3 linked regions of the Homo sapiens genome follow. The protein of the gene in region 2 interacts with the protein of the main gene of each other region in a pairwise test. Each region holds a gene or a part of one and is shown on either strand. Other genes may lie near its edges.

Evidence for each region.
Region 1: the proteins of CCDC59 (region 2) and NKX2-1 interact in binary tests that used the Homo sapiens proteins (3 or more experiments, as listed by UniProt).
Region 3: the proteins of CCDC59 (region 2) and MAGEA8 interact in binary tests that used the Homo sapiens proteins (3 or more experiments, as listed by UniProt).

Annotation. Positions count from the first base shown.
Region 1 is NC_000014.9:36,516,908-36,524,947, forward strand, and holds the start of NKX2-1 (homeobox protein Nkx-2.1), read right to left. Parts: upstream 3,326-8,040; 5' UTR 3,223-3,325; coding exon 3,146-3,222; intron 2,773-3,145; exon of another isoform or gene 2,464-2,772; coding exon 2,078-2,463; intron 1,114-2,077; coding exon 371-1,113; 3' UTR 1-370. UniProt on the Homo sapiens protein: Transcription factor that binds and activates the promoter of thyroid specific genes such as thyroglobulin, thyroperoxidase, and thyrotropin receptor. Crucial in the maintenance of the thyroid differentiation phenotype.
Region 2 is NC_000012.12:82,355,039-82,363,272, forward strand, and holds the start of CCDC59 (thyroid transcription factor 1-associated protein 26), read right to left. Parts: upstream 3,350-8,234; 5' UTR 3,339-3,349; coding exon 3,185-3,338; intron 2,232-3,184; coding exon 1,922-2,231; intron 1-1,921. Other genes in the region: METTL25 (probable methyltransferase-like protein 25), read left to right, coding at 3,528-3,786. UniProt on the Homo sapiens protein: Component of the transcription complexes of the pulmonary surfactant-associated protein-B (SFTPB) and -C (SFTPC). Enhances homeobox protein Nkx-2.1-activated SFTPB and SFTPC promoter activities.
Region 3 is NC_000023.11:149,877,137-149,884,377, reverse strand, and holds the start of MAGEA8 (melanoma-associated antigen 8), read right to left. Parts: upstream 3,196-7,241; 5' UTR 3,093-3,195; intron 2,011-3,092; exon of another isoform or gene 1,880-2,010; intron 1,308-1,879; exon of another isoform or gene 1,029-1,307; intron 557-1,028; exon of another isoform or gene 306-556; 5' UTR 244-305; intron 169-243; 5' UTR 106-168; coding exon 1-105. UniProt on the Homo sapiens protein: Not known, though may play a role in embryonal development and tumor transformation or aspects of tumor progression.

The sequences.
Region 1 (8,040 bases), on a different chromosome or scaffold from region 2:
CCATGTCAGCACAGAGCCCTCTCCAATCTGTGCCCCGCCCTAGCGTGGAAAACCCATTTGAATCACCAAAAAAAGACACCCCAAAGCTGTTTTATGCCCTTCTCTGCTTAAAGATTCCTTGAGATTGGATGCGCTTGGTTGTTTTTCATTTTCTTTTTTTAAAAAAAAAAACCCACAAATTTTAGGGGGGGAAAAAAAGAAAGACGTCCAGCAGTTTGGCCTTTGTGGTTTTTTTGTTCCTTGGTCTAAACGCGGCCAGGTTGTTAAGAAAAGTCGAAGCGCGTGGAGCAGCGGTGGATGGTGGTCTGTGTGGCGGGCAGGAGGGAAGCGGTGAGGCAGAGCGCTGGGCTAGGGCCGGCCCGGCGTCCTCTCACCAGGTCCGACCGTATAGCAAGGTGGAGCAGGACATGGTGCCGTAGTCCGAGCCCGAGGAGTTCAGGTGGGACAGGCTGGATACCTGGCCCTGCAGCGCCGCGGGGCTGGCGGCGTGGTGCGCCAGGTCCGGAGACTGGCCTGCGCTGCCTGGCTGGTGGCCCGGGTGTGCGCCAAGGCCGGCGCCACCGCTGCCCACGGAGATGGCCGCTGCCGCCGCCTGCGCGGCCTGCGCCTGGTGCTGCGCCTGCTGCTGCGCGTGGCCTTGTAGGCTGGCGGCGCCCGGCGCGGGGGCACCCGCCTGGCACGGTTTGCCGTCTTTCACCAGGACCGGCACCGCCACGCGTCGCGGCGACTGCTGCTGAGCCTGTTGCTGCTGCGGGCACCCGGTGCCCCCGCCGCCCCCGCCGCCGCCGCTGTCCTGCTGCAGTTGCTGCTGCGCCGCCTTGTCCTTGGCCTGGCGCTTCATTTTGTAGCGGTGGTTCTGGAACCAGATCTTGACCTGCGTGGGCGTCAGGTGGATCATGCTGGCCAGGTGCTCGCGCTCCGGCGCCGACAGGTACTTCTGTTGCTTGAAGCGTCGCTCCAGCTCGTACACCTGCGCCTGCGAGAAGAGCACCCGGCGCTTCCTGCGCGGCGCGCTTGGCAGCGGGGCCATGTTCTTGCTCACGTCCCCCAGCGAGCCCAGGCCGCCCATGCCGCTCATGTTCATGCCGCTCGCCGGGCCCATGAAGCGGGAGACTGTAAGCGACAAACGCACAGCGTCGGCCGGGGCCAGGCCGAGCCAGGCCACCCCTGTTTTCCGCGCCATTGGCCCGCCCGGCCCGCCCCAACCGACGGCGCCCTCCTGACCCAGGCAGCCTAGCGCTGGGGCCCAAGAGGCCCATCCGCGGGGAACTGCCAGCGCCTGCCCCAGGCCGTACCGTCGAGGGGGCTGTACTGGAGCGCTCACAGCCCCAACCCTGGCTGCCCTCCCTCAGTCTCAGTTCCCTCTTTCGAACCAAAAGACGCAGTGGGGGAAAGGCCGCTTCTGCTCCTTTCGTGCCCAGCCCGGGTCAGAGCATTAGGATTAGCTGGCCACAGGCGGCGAACTGGGCTCAGGCCGGGAGCTGGGGTCCTACGGTAGACCCCAGTTTGGAGAGGTTAGGAGAGGGGGTGTTGACTTCCAAAAGCTGGAGCCCCCAGACGCTTTGCCTCTTGGCTTCTCTCCTGTCAGGCCCCAGTGAGGGCACCTGCTCGGACCCTTAGAGTCCCCTCTGGAACTGCGAGTCCTCCCACCTGCCCAGACTCCGCTGGAGAGAGGGCCGGGCCGGGCGCTCGAGTGCCTCCCAACAGGGCAGCCTCCCTCCTGGCCCGGTCTAGCCTCTCCGCGCTCTGCTCGCCCCTGCTCCTTGAGCTCGGGGTCGCTTCCCTTGGCTCCCCGAGGTCTTCTGCGCCGAGCAGAGCTGCCAGTCCACCGCGCCTAGGAGACGCCGAGTACCCGCATCTGACCGCAGGACCCCAGCGCTACCAAGTGCCTGTTCTTGGACCCCCAGCCGAGCAGGGGGAAGCATCCCCAGCTCCCGCACCCAAGTCCCTGGCGCCGCTGCCGGGCCGCCCTCCCTGATGCCCAGCGCGCAGCCTGCCGGCGCCGCGCCTTCTGGACGGCTCTCGCCGCACCTCCTGAGCTCAGCCCGCGGCCCCGCAGTGGGGCGGCCTCACTTACTGGCGGGGAAGCGCGGGTCTGGGTTGGCGCCGTACCATCCGGGGCCAGAGGCGCTGTTCCTCATGGTGTCCTGGTACGGCGGCAGCTCGCTCATGTTGCCCAGGTTGCCGTTGCAGTAGCCCCCCACGGCGGAGTGCGAGAGCTGGGGCACCCCCGCCGCCGTCATGTGGTAGGCGGCGGTGACGGCGCCGTGGTGCCCCACGGCGTGCTGCTGCATGGCCGCTGTTGGCGGTGCCGCCTGGCCCTGCCTGTACGCCGCCAGCGGAGCCCCGAGGCCGCCGCCCTCCATGCCCACTTTCTTGTAGCTTTCCTCCAGGGGACTCAAGATGTCAGACACTGAGAACGGAGTCGTGTGCTTTGGACTCATCGACATGATTCGGCGGCGGCTGGAGGAGGAAGGAAGAGGAGGAAAAAAAAGGGAGAGGGGGAAGGCGAAGCCTCGCTGCTTTTTTTTTCTCCCTTTGCCAAATATTCTGGTGTTACCTTAACGCCGATCTTGTTGGATGTACACGTAACGGAGTGGACCGAGTCCTCCTTAATTGGCTTGAGTGGAGGCTCGGGGGCTGCCTCGCGTTTGTTTTAGCCCGGCGCCAGGTTTTAGGCAGCCACCAGAGGCGGGGCGTAAGCGCTAAAGCAACAAGACAATAGAAGCCTACATCTTGCCCGAGATAATTAGCTTACATGCTGATGACAAGGTAAACACCTTTAAGTTTCACTTGTCAGGATTTTTAGGTCTCAAAGAGAGAGAGAGAGAGGCAGAGACGAGACCCAAAGCATTTCCCCCCTCCCTTGGACACCCCCACCCCCATTTTTTGTGGGGTACCAGCGGAGCGCGGGGAGGAGGTGGAGGGGAGGGGAAGGAGGAGGGAACCGAGAGCGGGGAGGGCAGGAGGTGGGGTGGGGGAGTAACAGAGGAGGAGAGATGGTTGAGAGGAAGGAAGGTGAATGCTGCTTTGCAACCAACTTGCGGAGTTACAAAGTGGAACCACTTTCCAATTCGGTCGGGGTTCCCCGGGCACGGACAGGTCTTTAGGAGGAGGGGGCTGAGGGACAGGGTGGGGGTTTCACCTGAGCCTGCCGGGGCTGCTCCTCCCTCCCGCCGCGGCCTCCCAGCCCCGCGCCTTCCCACTGCCTCCGGACCACATCGGGCTTCGCTGCGCTGAGCCCCAGTCGCCAACAAATGAGCGAGCGAGTCTGGGGACGAACCCTGGGGCCGCACTGTTGGTCTACGTGTCTGTCAGTCTGTCTGCCTCTCTTCTGCCGCCGTCAGAGGGACACCTCTGCTCCCCGCCCCCTTTCCCCCTACCGGAGAGAATCCGAGCGGGCGGAGGGGGCGCTGAGTAGGGGATCGACTGCCTCCCGGAGGCTGTCCCGGATCCCCGAGCCACAACCCGCCCCCGCAGCTCAGGGGTTTTTCAGTGGGCCACCCCCGCTAACACGCCTCCCCCAAGGTCTTCCCCCCCCCCCCCCACCCCCGGCCGAGCAAACACAGCACTGGCCCCCAGAGCTGGGAGGATGGGAAGGGGTCTCACGGGAGGGTCCGTCACTGAAGTTGCCCCACCTCGAACAAACCTGGTGTCCCTGACCCTCGCCCATCTCCCAGACACGCGGGGATCTGGGGCTGGAGCTGACTTTCCGAGGACATCACAGCCCCAGCACCCGAGCCCAGAGCCACGCTGTTTTCCCCTCTGATGCTTCAGGGAGCGCGCGAGCAGGGAGCGGCGTGAGTGCCCGTCTGTCTGTTGCCGGGCGGAACTGAGCCTGAACCCCGGCGGCTGGAGCGCTGGCCAGGAGGGGGCGAATGCCGAGGTGCGGGCAGCTCAGCGGGCGGGAGGCTGGGCCGAGGCTCGCCTCCGCCCGCAGCTCAGCCATGCAAAAGTGCTCTTGCTTCCCGGGAATAACCAAATATCTTTGTTTAAAGTGGTGGCGTAAATGGCCAGTCGCTTTGTGGCCACGCTGGATATTAGTAGATGAGGATCATTCTGCTTCAATTGGGCGCCTCTCATCCGACGAGCAAGAAACTGCTTAGGAGGAAGAGGGTTTCCTGTCTGCGCGTTCCCAGGCTTCAAGTGTGGGCCCCGCGCCTTGAGGGTCCTTGGGCGCCTGGCGAGGGGGAGCTGTGGGCTGCGCTCCCCAGCGGAATCGGGGGTGTCCCCCGCGTTGCTCCGGCCAGGCCGGGGCCTGCAGCCGAGTCGACTACCGAGTGGAGCACTGAACGGCGCGGATTTTGAGACCGACTCCGGTTTTTGTCCTTGGATTTTAAACGTTTTTATCATTGTTTTTGTTTTGCTTTCTCCTTAGCTGTTTTAGTCTCCTCTGCGCGCCAGGGGCTGGGAGGGCGGAGCGCTCCCCGGCCGGCCCCGGCAGGTGCCTCCAAGACACCCGCGCTGGTCAAGGAGCTTCTTGAATTTAGTTTTTGTTTTCACATTTTCTTTCCCCTCCTTGTAGAGAAGGAGCTCCTGATCATGACGAACAGGCAGTTTTGAGCTACTTAATTCATCCGGGCTCCCTTTTTTTATTAATAGCAATTACAGTAGAGAAAGTTTTATTTATTTTTAAAGATTTCAGCCCTCTCCTTGAAGAGAGCTCTTACTCCCTCAATACAAAGCCAACTTCTATAATAACATTCGCTTTTCTCACCGCCTACCTTCTTTACCAGGGTAAAGAAAGCTCAGGACACCCTCCGCCCTCCCACCTGCGCCCGCGTTTTTGTGCGGTCCCCACGGCAGAGCTGGGGAGGCCACCCTACGTTTGCGCAGGGAGACGCGCTCGCCGCTGGTGTTGCGAAAGACCAGAGCGAAGCCCGGCTCCTTGCCCTTCCTTCCCAGGGGCTTCTCTGGGGGGCGCTCTCAGGCCCCGACGAACTGAGCATTGATCACTGTGGTGGCTAAGCAAGGAGGGGAGGCGACGCCGGGCTTAAGCGAACCACAGAGGAGAACTGGCAACGCTGAATACAGACCTTGTCTGCAGGCGCGACCTGGCCGGGCCTGAGTCCCGAATGGGGTCTAATTGCGAAGGCGGGGTGGGTTTCCCAGTCACCCAGCTTCTTTCTCTCACTCGCCATTATTTCATAGTTGTTTGTAAGTTTAAGGAACACCAAGTGTAGAATGTTGTACATCTCTTCCAGTCTCAACGCCATTTAGAAATGGAGATCAATCTTCACAAGGTTTTTGTGAGATTCAAGTAAGATGAAGCACATCAAAATGCTTTGAAAGCTTTGAATGTTTTTCAGCTCAGTGCCAGCACTGGAGATTGCGGTAGTTATTATCATGACTATCCCCACCCCCTCTTAGGTCCCAAGACCTGAGTAAAAGGAAGAGTTGGGTGAATCTTCCACAGCCCCTAGGTCCTGTCTTCTCGGCCTTCGTCCCTTGGCAGCTTTTCAACCTCTCAGCAGGCCACAGGCGCACGTGGCTGGCAGCTCCCCGGCCTCCGGCTCTGACAGTCCGGGGGCAACCAGGCCTGCAGTTCTCGAGGAAACCCCCAGCCCCCCACGTCTCGTTCTGGACCAGGAACCCCCTCCCCAACAACCGCGCAGCAAGTGGCGACTCTGGGAGCTGAACTGGAGTGGAGCTCGAAGTGGCTGGGGCGGGCAAAGACTCCCGCTTCACTCTGGGACACAACTGGGACGGCGCTTCAACCTCTGCCTGCAGGCGTGCTTCTCGCGCGCACCAGCAAGCTCTCTATCCACCTCGCCTGGGCCTTTGCAGCGCCCTGCCGCCCAGGCTCCAGCGCCTCTACTACCCTAGCCCCTTCTCAACACGCGGCTCTGCCTTCTTCCCCAGTACCACTGCACTGCCGAAAATAAGCCCGGAGACTAACGCACCTTGTAGGGAAGAGAAGGACATCTGTATCTCCAAGCTTATCCAAGCAAAGGCCTCCAGAGTCCCTCCCATGGCCCGAAACACCTCCCTCTGACCGAAGAGCGTCCTTTCTTTCCGCCGCCTCCTGGACTCATCCTAAATAGGGCAGACCCGGGCTAAACCAGTGATTTTTTTTTCCATGAATACGAAGAACCCCGATTGCACTTTGCGAAGTCTGCGCGTATTCCTTTATCCCGCAACTAGCTTGCTCCCGGGTGGAGTGGGCACAGTGGGGAGCGGTCAGGGCAGGGCAGGGCCCAACGCTGGCCCCTCGCGGAGCTTTCCCTGGCGCGACCTCACACGGTCGCTGCCTCTATTCCGACCACGCTCTGCTTCGCTGGCTGCGGCTCCGCCAGGAATCCGAGGGGGCGCAGGCCCAGGCTCGGCCCTAGATGCGCGGAATCGCCATCAGCCTTTGCTTACACCAGCGTGGCCGCAGGGAAACTCCTTTCTCTCCCTCCAGTGTCACTTTGCGAGACAAGAACAGAGGGCTCATACAAAAGAAGGCTAATTTGGGGTCTGTAGCTTGGACCAGGTGGAACTGTGAGGAGGAACCACCTGTCTCACCGCCCCACCCCCCAACTGCTTTTTCTAACTCCCTTTGTGGTCCTCCACACCTGTTTAGGGCGCTGAGCCACTCTGTCTCCTGGTAGTGTTATTTTGCTCCAAGTTTTATCGCAATTTTTGATTCACTCGACAGTATTTATTCAGCTAGGGCTCTGTGCCAGGGACTACGCAAGGCCTGAAAATTCAAACTTAATCTAGATGCAGCTCCTACTCACACGGAACTTACACATTCACAATAAATCACCCAAATAATATGTAGTTACTTTCTGACAGATGTTACTCTAGGATCCAGTGAGATAGAGAGGGTTGTAATGGAGATTCGTGTGTGGGTTTTTGCACCATTTCTTGATCTCTCAGCATTCCAAGGTCGTGAGAGGAGTCCTTGAGTGGAAGTCCGTCCTAGGTTTGAACCCTGGCTTTGCCTTTTTCCAGCTGTGCAGTACCGCTCTTGTGGGCTCCCGCCACACCCTGGAGTCACTCCCATCACAGCCAGAGTAAACCAGTGTGTGTTTTCTGGCTTCCCTCCTTGAGGGTGAGCCCCTGTTTTATCTATCTTTGAACCCCCCAGTGCCTCGAGAAACGCTGAGGAAACACAGCCTCCGAGCACCTGTTTCCTGAGCTGTAAAAAATGGTCACAACCTGCCCTGTGTACTGGCTTGGTTTGTGCTAGGGATCCAAACAATTCAGGATGAGATCATGTGCCTGAGTTTGTAGATCACAAAAGTCGCTAATAGAAGGAGTTATTCCTTCTGATTCTGTATTTTGGATTTAGAGAAACTGTGACTCTAGGCCTCTGACCTTCAACAAGAAACACTTGGGCCCCTCAGTTGCTCCCGCAGTCTCCCACAGCTAGGCACAGGCTTCTAAGCCGGGCTGAGCTGGGCTCGCGAGTGCCATCGAGGCAACCAGGCGCAGGGAGCGGAAGGCAGGAGTGTAACTGGGCGCTGGGGGGCGCTGCTCCGCAACCCCAAGATCCGAGGAATGCCTCCGGGGGATGATTTCTCTGGAGGGGTCTCGCAGGGCCCCCTCTGCGCTGCTTTCTCAGGCACCAGAACCGAAATCCTCGGGAGGGACCGCGGGAGCCCGGGGCGTGCAGACAGGCGGCTTTCACAGACGCAGCGGGAGGAAGGATCCCTCTACTGCTCCCTTTCCCGATTTGACCGTCTAGGGCCTTTGAGAGGACTTTCCTTTTGGGAAAGCTTTTCTCAATTCGTGGCCTGTGGGCAGGCTGGGGGGTGGGGCGCCAAGTCATCCGAGCGCGGCTTCTGCTTCTCCCTTTCCCTCACAGGCATGCTCTACGGAGGGTATGGGAGGCGAGGGCGCGTCTATGAGGGCCAGAGTCCGCGAAGAGAGTCCGGCCCTTAGGCCTTTGGTGTTGAAGAATCTGCTCCTCTGTCGGGTCAAGCCCCACTAGAAGTTAACACCTGTGGTCTCCAAACTTGCCTATTTTCCTGTCACGCAGTTCAAGCCAAGATTCAACTCGTCTTGAATTTTTGTATTTAGAGCCCCTACCTTCTCCACCGACTCCAGGGG
Region 2 (8,234 bases):
AATCCAACTACTTGGAATTCCATTCATTTCCTCAGCATCCTTGATTCAGTAATAACTTTACTTTCCTCTATCATTCAACTTTTCACTATACTCTGTAACTACAATATAATATTTTAATAGCTACTAATCACTAGCGACTTTGGACTAGTGACTAGTGACTGCCTAGTCCACAAATCCAGAGACCTGTCCTCAGTCCTATTCACCTTCAACTTTATAGTACAGTAGCACACCCCTTATCCATGGTTTCCCTGTTCCACGGTTTCAGTTACCTGCAGTCAACAGAGGTCCAAAAATATTAAATTGAAAAATTCCAGAAATAAACAATTCATATGTTTTAAATTGTACACCACACTGAGTGTTTGCTTTAAGTGAAAAGGTAAAAGTTCTTGACTTAATAAGGAAGGAAAAAAAATCGTATGTTGAAGTTGCTAAGATCTATGGTTTTAAAAAAAATCTTCTATACATCAAATTGTGAAGGAAAAATAAATTCATGCTAGTTTTGCTGTCATACTTCAAACTGCAAAAGTTATGGCCACAGTACGTGATTTAAGATGGAAAAGGCATTAAATTCCCAAGTAAAAGACATTAACAGAAATACATTCCAATTGACAGAAACTGGGTTTGGTACCATTTGCAGTTTCAGGGCATCCACTGGGGGTCTTGGAACATCTTCCAAACAGATAACGGGGGACCACAATATTTGATAGCTGACTAATCCCTCACAACTTTTCTCTGTGGACTGAGCTGTCACTGTATTTCTCTTTCTCCAGTCCTGAAAAGCTTAACTTCCTCAATGACAATATTTTCCCTGTTTCCACCCCAAAATAAACCGTAATCTTTAAAAGCATGATTTTTTACCTTCCTTTCTCATGATTTAAACTTCCTTACTTCAATTATCAGAGAATAACTCAAATCTACATTTCTACTGCTAATCTTTTCCCTGAACTTTATACTGATTATTTAACAATATAATGATCAAGCCTACCAAAAGTAGTAAACTTTTTGTGTCTCTGCCTTCATCCCCAATTACATTTTTACCCCCCGTGGTCCCATTTCCTGTTATTTTTAGCGCAAATAGCTCACGACTTTAAAAGATACGGTTTTAATGAAGTAAAAAATTATGCTCCCAAGTTAATACCCAGCTTCTTGCAATTTTAGATTTTAGCATTGTTTTTTAACTTTAAGTATGCAGCGATAGTTTTTTATAAGTTAACTCTTATAAAACCAAAGCGTCACGGAGCTGTGCATTTGCAATTGCAACCCATTTCTGGTCCTCTGCAGAAAATCCAGATTAATAGTAGTAGCTAACGCTCAAGAGCACTAACCACGTACCATATATACCCTTTAAGATCCTCATATACATTAACTCGCTGAGTCTTCACAACAATGTCATGAAACACCTTAGGAACACCTGAGTTTATGTGAGTAATCCATTCTGGAGCTGTGCAACATGGCAGCTCTGAAGTATATATTCATTACAGTATTATCTTTCCCAATTTAAAGAGGACATAGTGTTATTTTTCCCATTTTAAAGAAGAGGTCACTGGGGCACTAACATGTTGAGTCTGGCTCTAGAACCCATACTGTTAATGACTAAAATTATAACACCTCTCAGAAGTTATTTTTCAAAAATATAGTCATAACATATGGTCCAATCAAGTTACCACCTGTACTTGAGAGGAAGAAACCCAAATTCCAGAGCTCTTAATTCCCATTACGTTACTTTGTCAATTAGGCTAAACCAGCCTAATTCAGTTATTGAAGCTAAAAATAGAGCCTCCATGAAAATGTTTCCCTAATTAAACCGTGACTTCTAAAATGTGTTAAATAAGAAAAAATACAATTCCTATATAAATTATCCTATAGTACTTTTAAATAATAAAACAACACTTAAAGGATTTCAAATGAAGAAAATACATACTTTACTGTTTTAATACATTGTTCTTCTGGCTGAGGCTGGTCAAAGCTACACTGATCTTCAAATAAAGGCTCGTCAATGCTACACTGTTCTTCAAGCAACGGCTGGTGAACTTGTTCTGACAAAGGATGGTCGACTTTTCTTGCTTGCTTCCTATGTCTTTCCTCTTCAGCTAAATAGAGATGTTTCAGATTATCTGGGTATCGATCTGTGAATTGAGATTCCAGTGACGTTTGAGCCTTCTTTTCCTTCCGTAGCAATTTCTTGTAACTTTGCTGTATTTTCAGTTTTCTTCGAAAAGCAAAGCCTTGTCCTACATTGAGGAATATCATCCAAAATTACTTTCAGAGAAAAGAAGTTGAACGAAGAATGGAGCTGTTAATTACAAATGAAAACTTTTTTTACGTCATCACATTCAGATTCTAGTATTATATTTTGCTTTAAAAAATTATTTCAAGCAACAAATTTAAGCTGATGGATTGCATAGTAAGTTGGCCCTTTGCAAAAAGACCAGGCTAACAGTCATGCGGAAATCCAAGTAAGAATCTCAAAGAAAAACTGACCAGTTCAGACTGTTGCACAACTTGAGTTTACAGCTGTATTCACAAATCAAAACAAATTCCTTAGTTCATCTAAAACACTTAATCTGAGCCTTCAATAAATGCTTAAAAAATAGGAAAGAAAATGCCACATCTAGTATCTTGGACAAACTACATGTTTTCGAAAATGTTTCAACACGAAAGAAAAAGACAGTGTATGGTTGTCTGAAAAGCTAGCAATTATCGGAAGACTGAATTTAACATTTATATATTCCAAGTGGGATCTAAGAGACCTTACAGACAGCAATACAAAATGACAAACACAAATTAAAGCGAAGGCTGGAGGGCCTCGGGTATTTGTAATAAGGAAGAATTCGGAGCAGTGTTTCTGGCCCTGTCCTCCTCTCTATCCTTTACCTTACCACATGCGCAAGAGTTCACAGGGTCATAGACTCTCTCTGCTCAGTTTCTCAGGAAAAATATAGGAAAAAAGTTCTGATGAAATACAGGGTTACGTCAGAAAAGACGTTTAAATAATAGCAACACTGCTCCGTCTTCCTATCTAGAGCTCTGCGAAGCTCACAGCTTTAGCGGGCTCAGGAATGAATTCCCTTGCCCCAAGTAGGACCGGGTCTGGTTCCTAAATCCTTCTTCCAAGCTTCAGCGAATCTTATATCCTAAAACTTAGCAAGCCTGAGGATTTGCAAATGGTTGCCTTCTTACATACCCTCGCGAACGCTCCCCACGAAGGCTTGCGGGTGGTTAGGCCGCCATGTCTTCTGTCTCACATTCTTATTCCTGTACCCGACAGTGGAAACCCCTTCACCACGCGCCTCAATACCACCAGGCCGCCACTTCGCGGACCGCCTCACCGGCGCCATTGCAGCCGACTAACTGCGTCATCAGAAGACCACGACGGACGCCCACAAAATACGTCACCAAGCCGAAGCAATCAATCGCTCAGAAGGAATCCGGCTCGGAGCTCTACTGAGCCTGCCTGTGCTAATTTGGGCCGAGCTGGCGCCTCACGGCCATGTTTGCGCCACCTACAGCCTCGGAGGGTGAGCGTCATGGCGGCTTCTTGCCCTCTCCCGGTGACCCCGGACCTGCCCACGCTGCGTGCCAAGTTGCAGGGACTGCTGCAGTTCCTGAGGGATGCCCTGTCCATTTCCAATGCACATACCGTGGATTTCTACACAGAATCCGTGTGGGAGGAGCTGGTCGACTTGCCACCGGAGACAGTGCTGGCTGCGCTGAGGAAGTCAGCGTCGGAGACGGAGGCCCTGCCCTCAGAGACGCGCCCCCTAGTGGAAGCAGAGTGGGAAGCAGGTGGGTGGTGGGGTAGGCGGGGCGGGAAGGGAGGCGGAGGAGAAGGTCCCGGCAGACGAAGCGAGCCCCCTGGTGGAAGCCAGCAGAACCAGGTGCGTGGCGGCGGAGGCGGGGCGGCCCGCTGGGAAACCGAGGAGGGGTCGGATTAGTTGAGGGGTGGGGTGGGGATGTTCTTTGGAATCAGGATCACTCTTTCTTTGGGTGCTTGTGTATGTCCACAATTTAAAGAAAGCAGGAAACAGGGCAGGGGAGTTCCTTCATCTAGTAATTCCATAATAATTGACGCTAGGGAAACTAGGGGAGCAGTGCTCTCACAGGTTTTATAAATGCCAGCATGTGGTGGAAGATTACTCAACAGTTAATAAAGATAATTTCAAGTGGTGGTAATGAAGTAGAAAATAAAAACAGTGTAATGTGGTAGGGATTGTGTAAGGAGGCTGCCTCAATTTAGGAGGTCAGGAACATGAGAAGGCACTAGCTGCAGAGCCACAGGGAGGGGTTGCAGGCGGTGGGAACCGCAGGCTAGGCTTGGCTCTAGCCAGGTGAGGGGCTGCAGGTGCAGGACGGGAGGCAAGCAGAGGCCAGATGGCACAGGCCTTTCTAGGCCTTGGAAGGATTTTGGATTTTAAGTGTGACGGAAACCCTTGGGATTATTTAGGCAACATAGTGACCTAATTCACATTTGAAAAGATAACTGTGAATTATTTGAAGAATAGACTAGGGCAAAAGCTGAAGCTGAGAGGCCAGTTAGGAGACTACCTCAGTAGTACAACAGATGATTGTATCTTGGACTAGGATGGTATTCGGATAGTCACTATTTCATTTAAAAACTATTTTAAAGTACCTAATATGTGTCTTGAATTTTTGTAGGCTCAAGCTTTTCCTACCCTCAAGAAATGTAGATTCTTCTCAGGCAAGCATATTTTGGAAGTAGAATGATGGACACCAACAGGCTTCTGGGATTTTTACTTTCCTTCTAGACTTCCCAAAGTTACCCTTACTAGTGAACTTTATTCATTGAGCATTCTCTGAATGCAAAGCATCACTAGAGGGACCTCTTATAATAGCACTTGGTAAATACTGTTGTTGTTTTTTTAAGTAATTGTTATTGAAAAGTTAGGCACTTCTTCAGTTTGCTCTCATAATAAATATATGGCACTTATGATATGACAATTTTACTTAAACTCCAAAAGAGCAGAGTCTTTGTCTGACTTGTCAACTGATGTATTCCCAGCACTTGGTAAAATACTTGGCATACATTAGATACTGGATGAATATTTGTTGAATGGAGGAATTAATGAGTTACTCATGTTAGTTTTAAATAAATAAAATGAAACTACTCTCAAGTTTAGAGTGTAAGACTTTAATACGTGTTTAGCCTGGTCTCCAGACAATGGTAGAGTCAGATTGTCTTACATATTCTAATAATAATTGGATTATTTGATATTTACTATATACCCTGTAGTGTGCTAAGTGTCTTCATGTGTATTTTCTCTTTTAATCTTTACATCAGCCTTGCAAGATAGGTTCTGTTATTGTCGATTTGTGGAATTATAACTTGAGGAGTTAATTTGCAAGGGATATAGCTGATAATGGAAGATTCTCAAACCTGGGTCATCTGATTTGAAACTTTTTTAGTGCTGTAAGAAAAAAAGTATACTAGATAAGGGAGGAGTAAGTAAGGGGAAGAAGAGGAAAATGTTTGCATTTTTAAGTAAGTTGTCCTGGCAAGACCTCACTGAGGTGACTCTAACGCTGAAAAGATAAGAAAAAAACCGAGCCATGAAGATCTCTGGAGGGAAAGCAGTCCATTTAGTGACAACAGGAAACAGAAATGCCCTGACGAGGGAGCCTACAAGGTATGTTTAAGGAGCTGTAAGGAGACTGAAATAGATTTCCACTAGGGACTCACAAGGAGTATGGTCTTGTGTCCGGAATTGTTAGGTTCTTGGTCTCACTGACTTCAAGAATGAAGCCACAGACCCTCTCAGTGAGTATTATAGTTCTTAAAGGCGGCGTGTCCAGAGTTTGTTCCTTCTGATGTTTGGATGTGTTCGGAGTTTCTTCCTTCTGGCGGGTTCGTGGTCTCGCTGGCTTCAGGAGTGAAGCTGCAGACCTTTGCGGTGAGTGTTACAGCTCACAAACGCAGTGTGGACCCAAAGAGAGAGCAGCAGCAAGATTTATCACAAGGAGTGAAAGAACAAAGCTTCCACAGGGTTGTCGCTGCTGGCGCCAGCAGTCTGCTTTTATTCTCTTATCTGACCCCACCCACATCCTGCCGATTGGTCCATTTTACAGAGAGCTGATTGGTCCATTTTGACAGGGTGCTGATTGGTGCATTTACAATCCCTGAGCTAGACATGAAAGTTCTCCTAGTCCCCACTAGATCAGCTATACACAGAGCACTGATTGGTGCATTTACAAACCTTGAGCTAGACACAGGGTGCTGATTGGTGTATTTACAATCCCTTAGCTAGACATAAAGTTTATCCAAGTCCCCACTAGACTCAGGAGCCCAGCTGGCTTCACCTAGTGGATCCCACGTTGGGGCTGCAGGTGGAGCTGCCCACCAGTCCCATGCCGTGCGCCCGCACTCCTCAGCCCTTGGGCGGTCGATGGGACCAGGCACTGTGAAGCAGGAGGCGGTGCTCGTTGGGGAGGCTTGGGCTACGCAGGAGCCCACGGTGGGGGGGAGGGGGACTCAGGCATGGCGGGCTGCAGGTCTTGAGCCCTGCCCCGCAGGGAGGCAGCTGAGGCCCGGTGAGAATTCAAGAGCAGCGCTGGTGGGCCGGCACTGCTGGGGGACTTGGTGCATCCTCCGCAGCTGCTGTCCTGGGTGCTAAGCTCCTCACTGCCTGGGGCCAGCGGTGCTGGCCGGCTGCTCTGAGTGCTGGGCCTGCCAAGCCCACAACCACCCGGAACTCGCGCTGGCCAGCAAGCGTGGCGCGCAGCCCTGGTTCCCACCCGTGCCTCTCCCTCCACACCTCCCTGCAAGCTGAGAGAGCCAGCTCCAGCCTCGGCCAGCCTAGAGAAGGGCTCCCACAGTGCAGTGGTGGGCTGAAGGACTCCTCAAGCGTGGCCAGAGTGGGCGCCAAGGCTGAGGAGGCGCCAAGAGCGAGTGAGGGCTGCCGGCACGCTGTCACCTCTCAGTCTTCTGCTGATATTTTGTGAGGAGTTACAAGTAAACATAATTCCCAGAGCGCAATGCACAGTTTGGAAAAGCACACTAACAGATGTTCGGCACAATCATTTGGTGTTTTATGGAACAAAGTTTTTTCTAAAAGTCCTCAGTGTGTCCATTTCAGTAGGTTTCATGTGCCAGGTGATCTTCTTGTCTCATTAGAGTCCTAAGAGTTTCTTCTTCATTGTTCGTCTAAAAAGAACTAGAATAAAATATTTAATTCTCTAAAATAAAAAGCAAATATGTTAGAAATAACTATCTTTTCAGTGCATAAATTATGGCTTTCCAGACAGACTTCCTGGGGTCAAATATTGACTCCAGCACTTAGTAGCTGTGCTAACTTGGGCAATTTACTTCAACTCGTTGTACATTAGTTCCTCATCTGTAAAATGGGGGTAACTTTAGTACCTGCCTGATGGGATACTGTGAAAGGTAATTCAGCTAATATATAGAAAGGGATATCTTTCACGTGAAGTGAACAGCAGGTGCCCAAGCTGGAGCACGCTTGGTGCATTTTAAACACAGCTGAGCAGTCTTGGTGAGACCGGTGAGAGATGGCATTTGGAGGTAGCCCAGGACATCCTCACATAAAACTTGTAGGCTGTACTCAGTATTTGGCTTTTATTCTGAGTGAAATGCGAAGCTCTTTGAGAATTTTGTGTGGTGATGTGATACCGTGTGATTTATGTTTCAAATCACCTGGTTTCTGTGTGGAGAAGAGAAGGTAAGAAAGGTGAAGGAAATTAAGGGAAGAAACAGGAATACAATATAAGAGGCTATTAAAATAGTCCAGGGACATTTCAAGGAACAGTAGCTTGAAGAGGTCAGATTCCCCTGCAGATAACAATGATGAAAACTGGCCAGATTATTAAAAACAACTGTAAGATTCTGGAAAATGCCAAAGGCAGAAATATAAGAAGAGGTTACTATTGAAAGACTGTGATTGATTGGGTAGGAAGTCAGAGTTTATGGCTTTCTTGCTAGAGATGCTCCTAGCCCCTGTAGATCTAGCAGTGGAATACCACATCCTTACCAGGTCAAGGTGGTGATGGCAAAATTCAGAGATCGGAGCAGGTGCAAATTTAAGACGTACATTCTGGAAACAGGAGATACAAAAGGTCTGAGATCTAAGATCTGAGTATAAACGCTGCCTGAATCCCCAAATGATCTCTTAACTCCACATGCCTGGGAGACCTAGAGATCCTAGCAGAAACACTGGCAAAAAACTTTTGAGAGGCAGAGCTTCCCCTGGCTAGAGATCCCACAA
Region 3 (7,241 bases), on a different chromosome or scaffold from region 2:
CTCCTCAGCTGTGGGAATCTGCACATCCATAAGCCCTGGTGCCTCTCCTTGGGCCTGAAGGCCTTCCTCAGCCTTGTAGCGCTGACTCTTCTGCCCAAGAAGCATGATGACTCAGGTCAGGGCAGCAGGAGAGTGTGGGCCGGAGCTGGGCAATTGAGACCCACAGGCCTGGGGAGAGAGGAAGCGTGTGAGAGGCCTCAGCTGGGTACTACACCCTGGATGCCCTAACAAAGGTCTACTTACAGGTCTTCTTCAGTGCTTCTCTGGGGCCTCCTGACCTCCTGGCTGGCCTGTTCTCTGCGAACCTGAAGGAGAAATTGAGAGGGCATCTCAGGGTGCAGCCTCCTGGCAAAGGCCAAGGCTCCAGGACTGACAAAAGGGCTGGTAGGGCCAGGAACTGTGGGGTTCCTGCTGTTCTGATGCCAGAGGGGCCTCTGGTATACATACAGGGGAAACACCACCTCAGCTTGACTGCTACTACTGCCTGGGCCTCTTATGCTCTGTGATTGAAGATACTGCCTCAGACCAAGACCTCACAGCCTGGTTCCTGGAGCTCCTAGAAGATAAATCGAGGGGAACTCAGGCTGCAGACTGCAAGCACAGCCCCAGCACCCCAGTGCTGTCAGGAGGGTGAGCCTGACTCTGTGAGCTCCCCACTATTTTGTGTGGATGGTCCTTTCTGTGCTCATTCAGGGCCCTCATCTTTCTCCTGGCAGGGCCTGGATCTGGCCCTTTTGCTGGCCTGAGAAACTTTCAGATCAAGAGTTTATATCCCTGATATGGAAGACAAGGATATGAAGGGACCCACATCTGGCCCCACATGCCCAAGGCCTCCTGGGAAAAAAGCAATAGCTACACAAAATGCAATGGGGCCCACGTGTCCTGTCCTAGGGTGAGAAAAAAGCAATAGCTACACAAAATACATTGGGGCCCATGTGTCCTGGGCTGACCTGAGGCCACTTCCTTAATCCAAGGACCTATCTCCAGGAGACACTGGAAGAGCAAATGAGGGGATTCCATCCACCCACCTTTCCCTGCACTTCCCATGGCTGACAGAAGGTGCAGGGTGGGGTTCGGTCCTGTGTGTTTGGTGAGTGGTGTCCTCTGAGTCCCTGACTCCTGGCAGGGCCTTGGACCCCCGCTCTGCTGACCTGAATGCAGTGCCCTCAGACCAAGGCCTTCTTCTCCCTGAGACCAATGAGTCTGGTATAACACAGGGGCCTCAGCTGATAGTCCTGCTCATGCTCTCAGGGGTGACAAAAGAGGCCGGGCAGATTTCTGTTGGGCCCCCATCTGTTTTTTGCCTGCTAGGAGAACCATCGAGGGTACCCTCAATCTTCCCTCAGTGTTGTCACCTAGACTCTTGGTAGATTCTTGGACCACTGAGTCTGTTGCCCACATGGGGGTCCCTGTTTTGTCCTGAGTTGCCCTCTGAGAACAAGGTCCTCACTTCCCTGAGATCTCAAGAGAGAAATGAGGAGCCACCACATCTGATGACCACTGGGTGGGGTGTCCAGGGGTGACACTAGGATCTGTCCCTACTTGTTCTTGAGTGGTGGGTTCTAAGGTCTTCAGGGGGTTATTCATCTTTCCCCTGATGGAGCCCGCCCTTCCTCAACCCACAACACCCTGATATGAGCAGACATCTCCCCTTACCACCAAGACCTTATCTTCCTGCGTTTCCCCAACTTCCTGCCCACAGTACAGATGAGATCTCCACTTAGGGCCACCCTTGATCGGGTTCCCCCAGAGATAATAACCAAAGTTAGCCAGACTTTGTGGGGTCCCTTCTTTCCAGGCCAGGAGTACCCCCATTCATCACAAAGTGAGCACATCTTGGGTCCTGCAGATCCTGTGACCCCGTCCCTCTGTTGAACAGGTGTGGCTCCCTCTGCTGAGCTGAGGACGCCCTTCAGACCCAGGTTGCTACCTCCCTGAGACCCAGGAGGCAGAAGTAAGGAGGCACTACATGGACAACCCTGCATGGGATTCCCACGGCTGACAGAAGTAGTAGGTTTCATGGGGTCTTTCTCTGTCTGGGTGTCATCCAGGTATTCATATTTACTCCACGACAAGGCATGGCCCTTTCCTTCCTGCTGAACCGTGGATGTGTCTTGCATGCCAAGGCCACCATCTCCTTGAGGCCCCCTACCAGAAAGTGGGGGGGCCACATCCCTTCCCCACTGTCCTGCCTTGGGTGCCCAGACCTGAGAGTGGGAGCAGGTTTCCTAGGCCATGATGGGAGGTCTGCTGAGTCCTCCTTAAGGGCTCTGGGGCACCTCTCTCCAGTGATCTGAGACTCCACTCCTCAGACCACAGCTGTCTCCTTTCTGACACCCTGAAAATGCAGCAAGGATGCGCCACATGCAGCCACAGATCCTGGGACTTCCCAAGGCTGAGATCTCCACTGATCTGGAGTCCAAGGACCCCTGAGTCCTCCCTCTTCTTCTTCTCCTTGACTCCTGGCAGGGCTGTTCACCACCCCCCTGCTGACTTGAGTTTCAGTCCCTCGGATTCCTGAGGCCAAATGTGGAGGCCCCTCAGTCTCAGACAGGTAGGGTGGGCCCCCTGTCCTGGGGTCCTGGGTCCCCTCGGGCCTCCTCATCTCCCAGCATAGCCTGGGCCCTCCCTCTGCTCCTCTTGAGTCCGTGCTCATGAAGCCCCTTTGCTGCATCAGCCCCGGATGCGGACGTCAGAATCAGCGAGCCCGGCCGCCATGCCCGGCCGCCATGCCCGGCCGCCATGCCCGGCCGCCATGCCCGGCCGCCATGCCCGGCCGCCATGCCTAGGGCTTCCCAGGGCTGACAGTAGGGGCAGAGATGTGCTCTGTGGAGCCTCAGCCCTCCCTCAGGGTCCTGCCCTTGATGCCTGGCAGAACCTGGGCCCTGCCCTCTGCTAACCAGCCCTGCTCTGGTCACACCAAGCTCTCACTCCAGATTCCCCTGGGGCTTAAGCGCAGGGCTGGCGAGGGGTGGCCCAGCCAGACAAGTCTGCCCCCTGGTGGTCCAGGGCTGGCAGCAGGGGCGGCGCTAGATTATTTTGGGTCCTATATGAGGGGTGGGGGCCTCCTCAGTCCTCCCTCAGGGTCTCACCTTGCCTCCTCACAGACCCTGAGCCCGCTTCCCTCAGCCGATCTCAAGCCGACCCCTCAGAACCAGGCCCTCGCTTCTCTCTGATCCCCGCGGCCACGTCAGTGGCGTCACATCCGTCCACCCAGGGCTCACCTGGGTGGACAACAGGGGCGGAACCGGATTCTAGTGGGGCGGGGGATGAGGGAGGAGCGGTTCAGTCATCCCTCAAGGTTCTCACTTTGAGATCTGGCAGAGCCTGGAGCTCCGTACTCTGCTGATGGTGTCTGCTTCCCTCAGACCAAGGTTCTGATTCCGAGTCCCCTGAGGTGGCAGTGGGGGGAAGGGTGTGGTGGGGGGACAAGGCTGCTGGGGTCTTTCAGGGCTGACATGAGGGTCTGAGCTGAATTATGTGGCCCCTCTATGTGGTGTGGGTGGACCCTCAGTCCTCACTCAGGAGGGTCCTCTTCTTGACTCTTGGCTCTTTTAGGAGATACTCTGTTTCTGTCACCTCTGAGCATTTGCACAGCTGCACCCCTTGCAGAGAATGGCTGCGGGTCCCAGGCCAGATTCTCCCTGTGGGTTTGCAGCACCTAAGATTGTAGTGACCTCTGGGAGAAGAGGCACACCTTCCCACGGGGGCTCTTCCCCAGCTAGAAGAGGATTTTGCAAAACTTTTGTACTAAATGATTTATTTTTACACTGAAGAAACTGAGTAGCTGCAATAAATTTGTGGAAGTCCTGAGTTTTGAAGTTACCTAACAATTCCTATTCCACTTTAGTGATTTTCATAATTTAATTCGCATTCGTATAGTAAGAAACGAATTTTAAATCTATGCCAATTGTATATGTGCATTATATTTATGTTTATATGCATAAACACATATGTATGTATATGTTTATATTATATATGTGTAATTATATGAATGTATGTGTATATATCTTTACATATATTTATACATATATGTATGTCGACTATACGTACTTATTTTATCAAACAATATCTACTCATACAATGTGTGATTCACTCATACTATTCTATTTCTAGTTCATTATATATATTTGATTAAAATAATAGTATTTTGGAAGGTAGTCCTAACCTACTCTTTGTTTCTAGTTGTTATTAGCAGAATTCTGGAGCCATGGTGTCTCAATCAATCCAATTTTCCTGGTGTCCTGATATTACCCCTGGGCTACTGGCTTCGTGTTTTGAGGTGCAGACTCGGATCCTACATTGATGTGGGGTGGTCCTTTAAAACTTTTCCTGCAACTCACCCTGTCGTCTGCAGTGGCTGCAGACCTCCTCAACCTCCCTGCCTCTCCAACTGCCCAGAACACAAGTACCAGTTCAACACAGTTTTTTCCCCAGGGTTTTCTATGTTTTGTTGTTTAGACTTTGTTGCTGATATTGTTGTTTTATTTTTCTTTTTCCCTTCTATATTTTTACACAGTTGATTTTGGGAGTAGAGCACAGCAGCCTGGGCTTGATTGTCACTTTGGCAGCTACAGGTAGGCATTAACTGTTTATTTAATTTAAGTAAGATTTACACCTTTGCTGTATTCTATTCCTCATCAGTGAACATCATATACTACTCCATTTATTTGGGAATTTTTTCTCTGAATCTGTCAGCAAACTTGTACAGTTGCTTCTGTAAATGTCTTGCATATTTTGGTTAGGCTTCTTCTTCTTTATATTTTGGATTTAAATGCTGTTGGGGATGGTATATTTTTCATTTTATGTTCTAAGTTGCTCATCTGTGACAAGTCTCTTGTATTCGCTGCAGTGGTCTTTGTATGCTGTCTTCTGAAGTCTCTTATTCATTTGAATGTTCCATGTGTCTCTTCCTTTGAATTTTCTTGATGGTCATATTGTGAAAAATATGATCTATTTCTTTTCAATCTTCATACCTCTTTTTCATCTTGATATCCATAGCTCTCTTTTTCATTTCAGCATTCACTGCAGCTGTGAACGGTAGCAGTGAAAGCATACATCAATGACTTGCTCCTGACGAGAATGGGAATGCTTCTAACATTTCACATTCAAGTATGTTTCCTGTCAGTTTTAGAAAATTAAAGTGCCTTTTAATCTTCATTTGCTAAAAATGTTAATTTGAAAATATGATAAAATTCATTTCAGAGGCTTTTTCTGTATTTTTATTCCTTGCATACGAGCTGCTTGTTCATTAGTCCACTGTTGTGTTGAATATACAATTATCTATTTAGGACATTTGCTGCAATATGAGTGAACACTTGGCTCATATGTTCTTTTTATAAAGGCTGGATGTCTTTATCTTTTTTTCCCCCCCAATGCAGGAGAAGGAGCCTTGGAGAATTCGTTGAATAATTGCCCGTATTTTGGGATTATTTGGAAGAGTTAATATGGTGATTCGTTTTCCCTGACCACTTGGGGGAACTGACCCACAAAACTGCCTGCCTTAGAACGGTAGAGGGTGGATTGAGCTTTAAATACATTTTCAGTTTGTGGACGTACCATTGGTTTTATCCATTCACCAATTGGAAAAAGTATTGATTGTCAATTTCAAATAAGCTGCTATATATGTTTTTGTGTACGTGATTTTGTGTGTATGAACCTGTTTCCAATTTTCCTTGATAAAACCTAGGAGTACAATTGCTGTGTGTAATGGTAAGTCTAAGTTTTGCTATATTAGAAATAGCCAAAGCCCCTTCTAGAGTGAATGTGTTCTTTTTCTTCTCTACCAGCAATGAAAGAGAATGCCACATCTTTTGTACAATTTGGTATTTTCAGGTTGTTGCATTGTATCAATTGTAACAGGTGGGTAGAAGAATGTTACTGCTGTTTACATTTGTATTTTTATTGAATAATTATGGTAATCATCTTTTCATATGCTTTTTTGTGATCTGTGTATCTTCATTGGTGAAGTCTTGAAATCATTTACTATTTTATTGGACTCTTCATTTTTATGTGGTTGCATGTTATAAGGTGTTTATTCATTCAGTATATGAATCCTTTATCCGACACGGGGTTTACAAGTATTTTCTCCCCATTTTTGGCTTTTTTCCCCATTCCTTTAAGTGTTTTTTTTTTTTTAGTAAACATTTTAGAGTAATTTTAAATTTACAGAAAAGTTGCGAAGACAGTTAAGAGGGTTTTCCTATACATCATGTCCAGTTTCTCCTATTATTAACATCATGCAATAATATGATACATTCTTCATAATTCATAAATCAATATTCACCTGCACATTCCTGTCATTGTTTGAGGATCCCATCTAGGATACCATGCTACTTTAGTCTAAGCTGTGATAGTTTCTCAGACTATTCTTGTTTTTGATGACTTTAACAGTTTTGGGGAGTATCGATCAGGCTATTTGTGGAATTACCCTCATTTGGTATTTGTCTGAGTTTTTTCATATATAGACTTGAGTAATGGCTTTGGGGTAGGAGACCAGAGAGGCGAAATGCCATTCTCATTACACGATATTTTAGCAACATGACTCATCGCTGTTGATGTTGACTGATGAACTGGCTGAGGTAGTGTTGTCAGGATTTCCCTCTGCAAGGTTATTACATTCCCCCCTTTCTGTATTGTGCTTTATAAAAGAAAGTCACTAAGGGCAGCCATTGGGTAGTAGGGAAGTATGGTCCACCTTCTTGGGAAGGGGTAGTATTGACATGAATGATTTGGGATTCTTCTCAATGGGAGATTTGTTTATTCTCCCCCATTATTTGTATTTATTTAACCTTCAATTTGTCTCGGCTGAACTCATGGTAATTTATTATATGTTTGGGGTTATAATTCAACACCACTTTTATTTTGCTGCTCAGATTGTTCCATCTTTGTCCATTGGAAGCTCTTTCAGTTGGCTCTGATGTCCCCTTCACGTAACTGAGCCATTACATTTGTTTGTAGCTCTGTCTTACTTTATGGTATGACAAGATGATGCAGGCTCATTTTTATATTTCCTGTTCCAGTCATAGAAGAGTCAATTTTCCATGGTTTCTGCTTCCTTTTATGGGAGAAGAGTATTGGAATGTGAGAGGTGGGTGCTTGGCATGCTCATTGTTCCTGAGGATTTGTTATTCCTAGCCACCTCAATTCTCAGAGTAAAGATATATATTTTGGTATATTAACCTGTGTATATACACATATCTATAATCAGAATTCTTAAACCCAGTCCCTGTGAGAAATAG